Homo sapiens: one gene and its partners. The protein of the gene in region 1 interacts with the protein of each later gene in a pairwise test. Each region holds a gene or a part of one and is shown on either strand. Other genes may lie near its edges.

Region 1 (3,755 bases):
ACATAAAGGTTCTCCAAGGCCTCACCAGAGAAGCTAGATACAGAGTGCACATTGGTGCATTCCCAAACCCTGAGCTAGACACAGGGTGCTGATTGGTGTGTTTACAAACCTTGAGCTAGATACAGAGTGCTGATTGGTATATTTACAATCCCTGAGCTAGGCATAAAGGTTCTCCACTTCCCCCCGAGACTCAGGAGCCCAGCTGGCTTCACCCAGCATATCCCACACCGGGGCTGCAGGTGGAGCTGCCTGCCAGTCCCGCGCCGTGCACCCGCACTCCTCAGCCCTTGGGTGGTCGATGGGACTGGGCGCCATGGAGCAGGGGGTGGCGCTCGCTGGGGAGGCTTGGGCTGCACAGGAGCCCATGGAGGGGGTGGGAGGCTCAGGCATGGCGGGCTGCAGGTCCCGAGCCCTGCCCCGCGGGAAGGCAGCTAAGGCCCGGTGAGAAATCGAGTGCAGCGCCGGTGGGCTGGCACTGCTGGGGGACCCAGTACACCCTCTGCAGCCACTGGCCCGGGTGCTAAGCCCCTCATCACCCGGGGCCGGCAGGGGCGGCCGGCTGCTCCGAGTGAGGGTCCCGCCAATCCCACGCCAACCCGGAACTCCAGCTGGCCCGCAAGCACCCTGCGCAGTCCCGGTTACCCCTCGCGCCTCTTCCTCTACACCTCCCTGCAAGCTGAGGGAGCTGGCTCTGGCCTTGGCCAGCCCAGAAAGGGGCTCCCATAGTGCAGCGGTGGGCTGAAGGGCTCCTCAAGTGCCGCCAAAGTGGCAGCCCAGGCAGAGGAGGCGCCGAGAGTGAGGGAGGGCTGTGAGGACTGCCAGCACGCTGTCACCTCTCAAGATCTCATTACCTTGTCCAGGCTGGTCTTGAATTCCTGAGCTCAAGTGATCCTCCTGTCTTGGCCTCCCAAAGTGTTAGGATTACAGGCATGAGCTGCTGTGCCTGGCCAAAAGTAACTTGATAATTTGCACACAGGTGCCACATAATCCTGGTGGTACAGGTTGTACTGTCCAATACACTAGCCACATTTTACTTAAAGTGATGTGAAATTTAAAGTTCAGTTCCTCAGTCATGCTAGACAATTTACAAGTGCCCAATGGCCACATGTGGCTAGTGGCTACTGTATTGGGCAATGTTTAGGTATCGAAAATTTTCACCATCACAGAAGGTTCTATTGCACAGCACTGGACAGACCCTGCTTCTAAACTATTCTACGCAATTTGCTAGGTGAACGATCTTTAATGCAAATCTAAACATGGTCTTCTTTTGCTCAAAAGCCTTCAATGATTTTCTCTTCCATCAGCAGCAATCAGTTAATAGAGTTTTTTTCTTTTAAAAATGGTTGTAATGGAAAGTTAAATCAATTTTGAATCAATTTTGTGTGTTAAGACCAGCATTAAAAACAAGTAGCAAAAGAGAGAAGGGAAAGTACTTATGGATCATTAGTACAGTTTTGTGAAATTTTTGTTTTGGTCATATCTATATTTCTTTGCCTCTATAACTAGATTTCCACCTCTTCATAACTTGATGTCTGTATGATATTCCACTGGGTTGCAATGAAAAAAATCTTTCTAGTTGTGTGTGGTGAGCAAAAAATTTGGGCTTATGGGATAAGAAGTCTGAGCTCCGTAATGAAGCATTATAAGGCCCTCTATGATCTGATCCCTTGCTAATTCATTTCTAAGTCTCACCACTGTCTTGCACTTAGGTTCCATTAATACAGAATTGCTGCTGGTTTCACCTGAGACACGAAGCTTTATTTTTCTTTTCTTTTTTCCATCTCTGTTGCGTTTCCTCATTCTGAACTGTTTCCTTGGACTGCCAGTTCTACCTTCTTTTTGCCTGGAGAACTTATCATCATCTAAGGCCAACTTAGGAAACACCTACAGCAGGAATCCTGCCTAAATGCTCCAGGGCGGGCTGGCTGTCCTTCTTTGACCTTTCAGAGCATCCCACACACATCCGTTTACGGGGTTATAATAACGTAATTATTTATTTAGGTGTTCATTTCCGGCACTATACTAAGTTCTTTCAGTGCAGGTACTATCTTATTCATCTTTGTATCTGAAGCGAGAAGCGCGGTACCTGTAACAAACTAGGCATTCATTCAATAAATATTTGTTGAAAGAATAAACGCAAGAAGGAAGGAAAAATCAATCAACAACTGTGCGGACAATGTCAGTGCAACGCAGACTCCGGCCATCAGAGGGCGCCGGGGCGGCTGGGCTGGTGCGCAGGCGCGCTGAGAGGGCTGGCGCCGCGGCGGTAGCGGTGGCGGTCGCGGCTGTGGCCGGGGGAAGTGAATGGTTTTACCCAGAGGGCCCTGCGCCGCCTTTCTCCGCTGGCAACGGCGCCGCTCCCCGCTCCTCCTCCCCAGCCATGGCGTTCACGTTCGCGGCCTTCTGCTACATGCTGGCGCTGCTGCTCACTGCCGCGCTCATCTTCTTCGCCATTTGGCACGTGAGTAGCTGGGGCTGGGGAAAGGAGGGCGAGGCGGCAACACAGCCTCTTTTCGCCCCGGGCCCGCGGTCCGGGCCGCCACGGCCGCCGGGGCTTTGCGCGTCGGGGATGCGGCCCGGCTGGCACGGGCCGCGCGGCGAGGGGTCTGGGGGCCGCGGGTACTGGAGGAGCCGGGGCGCGCAGTCGCCAGGTGGACGCGCCCGCGTTGCCTCGGCACAGGCCGCGCGCACCGCTACTCCTCCCCTACTGGATGGGGCGGCCGCGGTCCAGGCGGGCGCCCGCGGTTCCGCGCTGCGTTCGCACCGACCTCTGCCGGCCCGCGGCCCTGCATTCCCGGGGAGGATGTCGACAGCGCGGTGGGACGGCCGTAGTGTGAATGAAGTTTTCCGAATTTTTGTTAATACAGATTGACTTTCTTTTAGGGTTTCCACAGAACTGTGGCCAAAATGTAACCTACTTAGGGTGAATTTCCAACTCTACTTTTCAGCACTTGTTCGGTGCTCTTCAAATCAAATCACTTTTTTTCTCTTTTTCCAGATTGTTGTTTCCTGGTGAACTTTGATGCAAGTTCAATTGATTACTTTGTTGATTGCATGTGCGCGTTTCCCCCCCAAATCATACTTTGACCGCTGGAGTTTCAACAGGCAGCTTTCCAAGCCACCCTTATATTCAGGATTGCTTGATTTAGTAGAGGGAGTTTTCATTTGATTTTGAGATGCTCAGAAACCTTAAGCTTTTCTGGGGCAGTATTTATTTCTGTTACACACATCATCATCACTATTGCAGGGTGGAAGCACAGCCTTACTGGTCCCTCTAAGGAAAAAGTCGTAAGTTCCCTGTGACATAGTTCTACAGAGATAAGAATTTCTGTTGCTTTAGCACAAAATTAAAAGCCTTGAGAGCCTTCTGGAAATCATTCATTAAAAATTTATCTCATACTTGCTTCTCTTTTCCCCATATTCCAGTGCCTTCTGGAATGTTGCTTTTAATTTGAATGACCGCGTTCACTCTTACGTAGATTTTAAGTCAGGTTTCATCATGCCAGTAACAAGGATTTCTATGAAACATACGGAGGGGCAGAATGATTAAACAGCAGCAGCGTCTTGTGCAAAAAAGTCTCGAAAGTGGAAGCATATCACAAATCCATTCCTTTTTGCTAAGCAGTGTGATTATGTTTACAATTATTTTAGGACCTGACTGCTTATTGTAATCAGGAATACTTATGTAGGCTATTAACTGTGTCGGAAATAACTGCTACCTCAGAATGCTTGTCAGTAGGAGCAGTAATTTGAAG
Region 2 (3,755 bases), on another chromosome or scaffold:
TGAAATGTAAAAATTTCTAAAAACACACATACTACCAAAAGTGACTCAAGGAGAAATAATCTGAAGAGTCATATAAAAAGTAACTACATTGAATCAGTGATCAAATACCTCTCAACAATGAAAGCTCAAGACAAGAAGTTTTCCTTTTGAATTTCACCGAACATTTCAAAAATTAACACCAATTCTTCTCAAACTCTTCTAAAAAATAGAAGATGAAGAAACATTTTGTAATATATTCTATTAGACTGGCATTATCTTAATATCAAAGCCAGCTAAAGACATTACAAGAAAATTATAGATTAGTATTGTTTATTAATATAAATGCAAAAGTCTTCAATAAAATACTAGCAAACTAAATTCAGCACCATATTATATACCCATTACTAAATGGGATTTATCTCAGGGATGCAAGAGGGATTCAACATACAGAAACTAATCAATGTAATGTATCACATTAATAGAATGAAGGTATGCAAACCACATGATTATGTCAATTGATGCAGAAAAAGCATTTGCAAAAGTCCATCACTTTTTTATGATAAAAAAATGTTCAACAAACTAGGAATAAAAGAAAATGTCCTTGACAGGCATTTATAAAAAACAAAAACAAAACCCAGTCAATAGTGAAAGACTGATTTTCCTCTAAGATCAGGGAAAAAAGGCAGAATGCCCAACTTCATTAGTTCTATTTATCATGGTACTGAAAATTCCATGTAGAGAAATTAGGCAAAGAGAGGAAATAAAAGGCAGAGGAAAATTGGAAAAGAATAAATCAAATTATTTCTATTTGCAGAAGACATGATCTTATATATGGAAAATCCCAAAGAGTCAACACAAAACATAGCTCTAATAAATGAATTCAGCAAAGTTGCAGGACATTTGTAGTTCTATACACAGTGATGAACAATCCATGAAAGAATTTAAGAAAACAATTCTATTTACAACAGCTTCCAAAAAAACCTCAATTGATAACAGCATCAGCCACAAAGAAGAATTAAGTATTGATACATGCTACGAAATAGATAAACCTCAAAAACATTAGCTAGGTGAAAGAAGCCAGACCCAAAAAGTCACAAATTGTATGATTCTATTTATATGAAATATCCAAATTAGTTAAATCCATAGACTGGATTAAGAAAATGTGGCACATATACACCATGGAATACTATGCAGCCATAAAAAATGATGAGTTCATGTCCTTTGTAGGGACATGGATGAAATTGGAAATCATCATTCTCAGTAAACTATCGCAAGGACAAAAAACCAAACACTGCATGTTCTCACTCATAGGTGGGAATTGAACAATGAGAACACATGGACACAGGAAGGGGAACATCACACTCTGGGGACTGTTGTGGGGTGGGGGGAGGGGGGAGGGGTAGCATTAGGATATATACCTAATGCTAAATGACGAGTTAATGGGTGCAGCACACCAGCATAGCACATGTATACATATGTAACTAACCTGCACATTGTGCACATGTACCCTAAAACTTAAAGTATAATAATAATTAAAAAAAAAAGATAAAAAGCAAATTAGAGATTGCCAGGAGCTGGTTGATGGGAGAATGGGAAGTAACTGCTTAACGGTATGCAGTTTCCTTTTGGAGTGATGAAATGTTTCTGAACTAGAGACAGATGCTAGTTGCACAATATTGTGAATGTACTAGATGCCATTGGATTGTACACTTTAAAGAGATTAATTTTATGTTGTGTAAATTTTACCTCAATAAAATATATGTCACGCTGAAGGTATCATTATCATGATCACCATCATCATCCCTATAGAAAATAATGCTTCCTAAATTTCACTTTCTTTAAAAGGTTTAGATTATGAGAAAATATAAGCAGACTAAAATTTGAGACTATAGTCAGTACAATTTGGATGACGTGTTCTTGTCTTCTCTCTGTTCTCTTTCAGATTATGTCTGGCCACTACCTAGATATTTGTGCCCCGTCTGGATTTCTTTAGATGTTTTATTTTCAACAGCGTCCATCATGCACCTCTGCGCTATATCGCTGGATCGGTATGTAGCAATACGTAATCCTATTGAGCATAGCCGTTTCAATTCGCGGACTAAGGCCATCATGAAGATTGCTATTGTTTGGGCAATTTCTATAGGTAAATAAAACTTTTTGGCCATAAGAATTGCAGCGGCTATGCTCAATACTTTCGGATTATGTACTGTGAACAACGTACAGACGTCGACTGGTAACATTTGCGTTTGATCGGGTTCTTTTATTTAGTAATTATTCTTAACCTATTTATCTGATATTTAGGTTAACAATAATGAAAGGAATGTAATGTGTATTAATATGTAAATATAAAGTTTCCATTTATGCTGCTAAATTATTTTATGCATTAGTATGCCAATGAATTCTGCAACACAGATACAAAATGTTTGAAATATTTAAAATGCTTTGAAAATGAGAAAGACATAAAGTCTAATTAAAGTCTAAATTTTAAAAATATAACATTTCAATCTTATATTGAAAAGTTACATGTATCCCAGAATATTAACCTTAGTATTTTTATTCTAAATTCCTATCCTTTTCAGTAGAAAAATTAATAATGCAATCTAAATCATCATCAAGTAAATATGTCTAAATTTTTGTTGCTATGACACCTAAAATGTACTATTTTCTCTCAGTTTTAATTGTCTTCTTGAATTCTGGGTATACAAAAAGAAAAAAAAATTTGTTTCTTTAAAGATTTGTAGCAGTTTAAAGGGAAAGAAATGATCATTTATTGCTTATATTTGAGGTATTCATAAATGCCTTAACAGTGCTAATATTAAAGCCAAGAAATTTAAACAATTGGACTTTAGGGGTTTTACTTTCATGTTTTTTTCCTTTTCCAGTTGGTGTAAATAATTTTTCTTCATATTTATGTTTTTGTAAAGATTGAGGTAAAGTGTGCAACAAGATCAAGACTTCTATTTAATCTTCACTAATATCATCTAAATATTTTGACTCTGGGTTTATTGATCAAATACATTTAAGTTTTAAGATTGTTCTATTGTAGATTGTTCTGCCTGTGTATAGCATAGACACCTTTGAATAAAAAGTCGTGAAGCTTGTCCCAAAAGACAAAAATGAATTTACGTAAGTTTGACTTACAAATTCAAGAGTTCACAGATTTTGCCCTAGCCATCACAAAGAGTTCATCTAAAAAGATGCCAGCTTTTATGGTGCTTACAAAGGAAATACACAGACAGAATATTGTTGCATCAGCTTCTAGTAATGAAAGACTGAGTAATTTGCAATGACTCTTGTGCTAAAGGCAAATAAACACATGGATAAAACACTAAAAGCCCTAAGAAGCTAATGAAATAGAAATTGCTATTGGCTAAGATCCAGAAAAAGACAAAAACCCAAGAAAAATGATTATGACTTCTAGTTCACTTTTGCCAATGATGCATTATAAACCTGAAGATATGACTGACAGGTGGAGACGATCATTTCAGACTCGCAAGCAATGGAGGACTAGAGTAGGAATACAGAGTCTGGCAAGGGCCAACCAACCTGAATTTAATTCTGGGATCACAAAAAAACCAGACACTAGGAATAAGGATCGACCAGGATTAAATCACCATAGACATGGAATTCAGCCCTGGTTCAAGTCATCTATGTAAATGAGAGAAATCTTGGGCCTTAAAATTGGATTAAGATGATTTCGTATTATTCAGGTTTCCAATTTTGGGGCATAAACAAACAAAAAAAACCCCATAATCCTAGATTTCAACTTATTTCTT
Region 3 (3,755 bases), on another chromosome or scaffold:
TGGAGTGCAGTGGAGTGATCTCGGCTCACCGCAACCTCCGCCTCCCAGGTTCAAGCGATTCTCCTACCTCAGCCTCCCGAGTAGCTGGGAATACAGACGTAAACCACCATGCCCGGCTAATTTTTGTATTTTTAGTAGAGATGGGGTTTCACTATGTTGGCCAGGCTGGTCTGGAACTCCTGACCTCGTGATCCGCCCGCCTCGGCCTCCCAAAGTGCTGGCATTACAGGCGTGAGCCACTGTGCCCGGCCGTCAGTTCGGTATTAGGAAAAGAATTTAAGAACTTTTAATAAATCAGCAAAAATATCATGCATTTAAAATGTTTCGGAAGAAATGGACAAATTCTTTTGATGAGGTGTCAAGAAAATAGTAGATTCCATTAAATAAACACTTTGATTAGAACTGTGAAAACAGGTTTGTGTGTAAGGCATTTCAAAAGTGAAAACTAGTCATCATATGATAACTAGGATCATGGAATTGTGGGCTATTTTTAAAAGTGTTACTGTTGCAATGATATAATTATTTCTAGTCTTAATTAAATTGTACTTAAAGTCACTTTAAATAACTTCTACTCTTTAGCCCTAGAAAAAGGATACAAATTACTTCCCAGGATATTTAAGCAACTTTCAGGATAAAGGTCAGAAATCTTTGCAAATTCATGAGAACAGAGGAAATGCTACCAGAAGATTGGAGCTGGACAAACATCCTACATTTCAAATACAGAAAAAATTGGGGCAAGTTCAGCTGGCATTGATTATTGGCAAAAGTTCTAGAGATTACTCAAGAAAGTGCTGAGTATTAGAAACCAACAGATTCAGTCAGAACAATGCAGGATACACTGTGCAAATTATTATTATTTTTTGAGACAGGGTCTCACTCTGTCGCCCGGACTGGAGTGCAGTGGCGCGATCTCGCTCACTGCAACCTCTCACTCCCAGGCTTGAGGGACTCTCCTGCCTCAGCCTCCCTAGTAGCTGGGATTAGAGGCGTGCGCCACCACGCCCAGCTAATTTTTCTATTTTTAGTAGAGATGAGGGCTCACCATGTTGGCCAGGCTGGTCTCAAACTCCTAATCTCAAATGATCCATCCACCTAGGCCTCCCAAAGTGCTGGGATTACAGGCGTGAGCCACTGCACCCAGCCTGTGCAAATCATTAAGCGCAATATTTGCAAGTCCATGGAGTCTTTGTTTTTTTGTTTTGTTTTGTTTTGTTTTAACTTTGTTGACTAAGATCTCAGAAGTATCTGAGAACTTGGGCTGCGCAGGGAATGCTGGTGTGGGAGAAGCAAGCCAACTGAGCTGAGCTGCGGCCCTGTTTGTCCTTAGCTCTCCAAAACTTGCTGTCTATGTCACTTGGAAGGAATTTGATTCTTTTCTGCAAGGCACTGACAATACCTTACAACAGAGCTGGGAGATAAAATGCAGAGCTTGTGAAAGTCATCAGAAAGTTGAACACAGATGGTCCCCGGCTTAAAACGGTTCAACTTGATGATTTTTTGACTTGATGATGGTGTGAACACGATACACATTCAGTAGAAACTGTATCGATAAGGGCTGCTTTATTCACCAGAAGTGAAAAACACGATGGTTGTGTGAGTATCTGAAGTACACAACCATTCTCTTTTTCACTTTCAGTACAGTATTCCGTAAGTCACACGAGATATTCAACACATTATAAAACAGACTTTGTGTGAGATGATTCTGCCCAACTGTGGGCTAATGTGAGTGTTCTCAGCACATCTGAGGTAGGCTGGGCTAAGCCAGCATATTCAGTAGGTTAGGTGTATTAAATGTATTTTCCACTTTCAATATTTCCAACTGATGAGGGGTTTATCTGGACACAAGACACAACACCATCCGAAGCAGAGGAGCATCTGTACCTGGTTCTTGTACAGAACACATGGCACACTCAACTGTGTGTTCACTGACTTAAAATCCATGATTGGCACCTGCTATTAGTCTGGCTGGTGGCTCACACCTATAATCCTAACACTTTGGGAGGCCGAGGCAGAAGGACAGCTTGAGGCCAGGAGTTCAACACCAGCCTGGGCAATATAGCAAGACCCCCCTCTCTACAAAAAAATAAAAATAAAAATGAGCCAGGTGTGGTGGTGCATGCCTGTAGTCCCAGCTACTCAGGAGGCTGAGGCAGAAAGATCACTTAAGCCTGGGAGGTGGAGGCTTCAGAGAGCTGTGATATCGTACCACTGGACTCCAGCCTGGGCAACAGAGCCAGACGCTGTCTAAAAAAAAAAAAAAAAAAAAAAAAAAAAAAAAAAAAAAAGCCTAGAGACTGACCTTGGGTTATTATTCTTAATCAAAGAAAATAATGTATATGAAATGTTTTATAAACTATAAAGGGCTGCACAAAAGAAACTGACATTAATGTTGTCATTATTTTGAAGGCATTGCAGATTCTGCGATGCAAATTCTGGTACCAATAACAAATACAAAGGCCAAGGCAAAAAATAAAAAGATCCTAACGGGAGAGATCTAGAAACTCAAAATTGTTAAGATGAAACCTAAGTCATGGTCATGCTACATGAGCCTAAAACTGAGAAAATCCTGATTTCATCCACCACTCCCAGGAAAACAACATTGGAGGGGTTGGTGATCATGGTCTGGAAGCAGAAGTATGTCATGTCTAGTTTAAGCCTAATGAATCAACTCTAGGTTGCAGTAGGGGAAGGACAGTATCCATCAATCCCCTCTTTGGGTTAGAACACACAGGGCCTGGCTGGGTTGGATTCTGGGTACCATGCTTAAGAGACACACATGCCAACCAGAGCGATAAGTATGGCAAATTTTTGCACGTATGGAATAGCTTAAGTACTGTAGATTTTTCAGCCAGGAAAGAAGCTATTGAAAACACATTTTATTTAAGAAATAATTTTTTAAAAAAAATTATTCTGAGGAGCAAGTGGCACAAATAGGCATGAGTTAACCTGAGTTTTATTTACCAAAGTGTGCCTTCCTGCAAGGAAAAGCAACTACGGGATGGACTAGCTGCCTTGTTAACAAAGCACTCCCTTTCCATCGATGGAAGTGTTCAAACTAGGATGGATAACTTCATGTTAGAGATATCATGCAGAAGGCGAGAGAGGCTGGTCAGCCCTAAGATCCCTTTTAACTACAATAACCTGGGATTCTAACTGGCTTGACAGTTTCACGTGTGTAGGTAGGTGCTAGGATACCAGCAGCCACATGAGAAAGAGGTCCAGAACTGTGCCTGGTAGCTCTTCTGTCTTCCTCTCCCTTTCTGACACCTAGGGACAGAATGGTGCATATATTGTAGGGCACACACACGCTAAAGGATACATACTAAATACAGGATACATGCTGAAGACAGCATGAGGCTTATTTGCAAGAGAAAGATCATGGAACAGAGCAGGAAAGAGGCACAAAAGGCAGCTTCTCAAACCCTGAGCTTTTATCCACTGAAAGAAGGCAAAGGCTCCTTCCACTTTCTGCTTCTACTTGGGATGTGGGCTGACAAGCACCTGACCCCTGGAACTCCTGCACTCACCATAGTGTACATCCCACATTAGTGCATCTGATACAGTATTCAACATACACAGCAGCACAGGAAAAGTCTGCCTTCCAACATGCCAAAATGTGCTTGAAAAGCTCTTTGAAGCATTTGTTATGTGCTTGAAACACACAGAACACTGGGAAGGCAGTCCTTTATTTAGATCTTTTTTGTCTGTGAAAATCAATATGTCCTTTCTAGGCTTTACTGTATAAGAAAATGTGT

What was found.
Region 2: the proteins of CNIH1 (region 1) and HTR2C interact in binary tests that used the Homo sapiens proteins (3 or more experiments, as listed by UniProt).
Region 3: the proteins of CNIH1 (region 1) and SLC22A23 interact in binary tests that used the Homo sapiens proteins (3 or more experiments, as listed by UniProt).

What each region holds. Positions count from the first base shown.
Region 1 is NC_000014.9:54,439,953-54,443,707, reverse strand, and holds the start of CNIH1 (protein cornichon homolog 1), read left to right. Parts: upstream 1-2,333; 5' UTR 2,334-2,380; coding exon 2,381-2,461; intron 2,462-3,755. UniProt on the Homo sapiens protein: Involved in the selective transport and maturation of TGF-alpha family proteins.
Region 2 is NC_000023.11:114,846,082-114,849,836, forward strand, and holds part of HTR2C (5-hydroxytryptamine receptor 2C isoform a precursor), read left to right. Parts: intron 1-1,921; coding exon 1,922-2,122; intron 2,123-3,755. UniProt on the Homo sapiens protein: G-protein coupled receptor for 5-hydroxytryptamine (serotonin).
Region 3 is NC_000006.12:3,450,354-3,454,108, forward strand, and holds part of SLC22A23 (solute carrier family 22 member 23), read right to left. Parts: intron 1-3,755.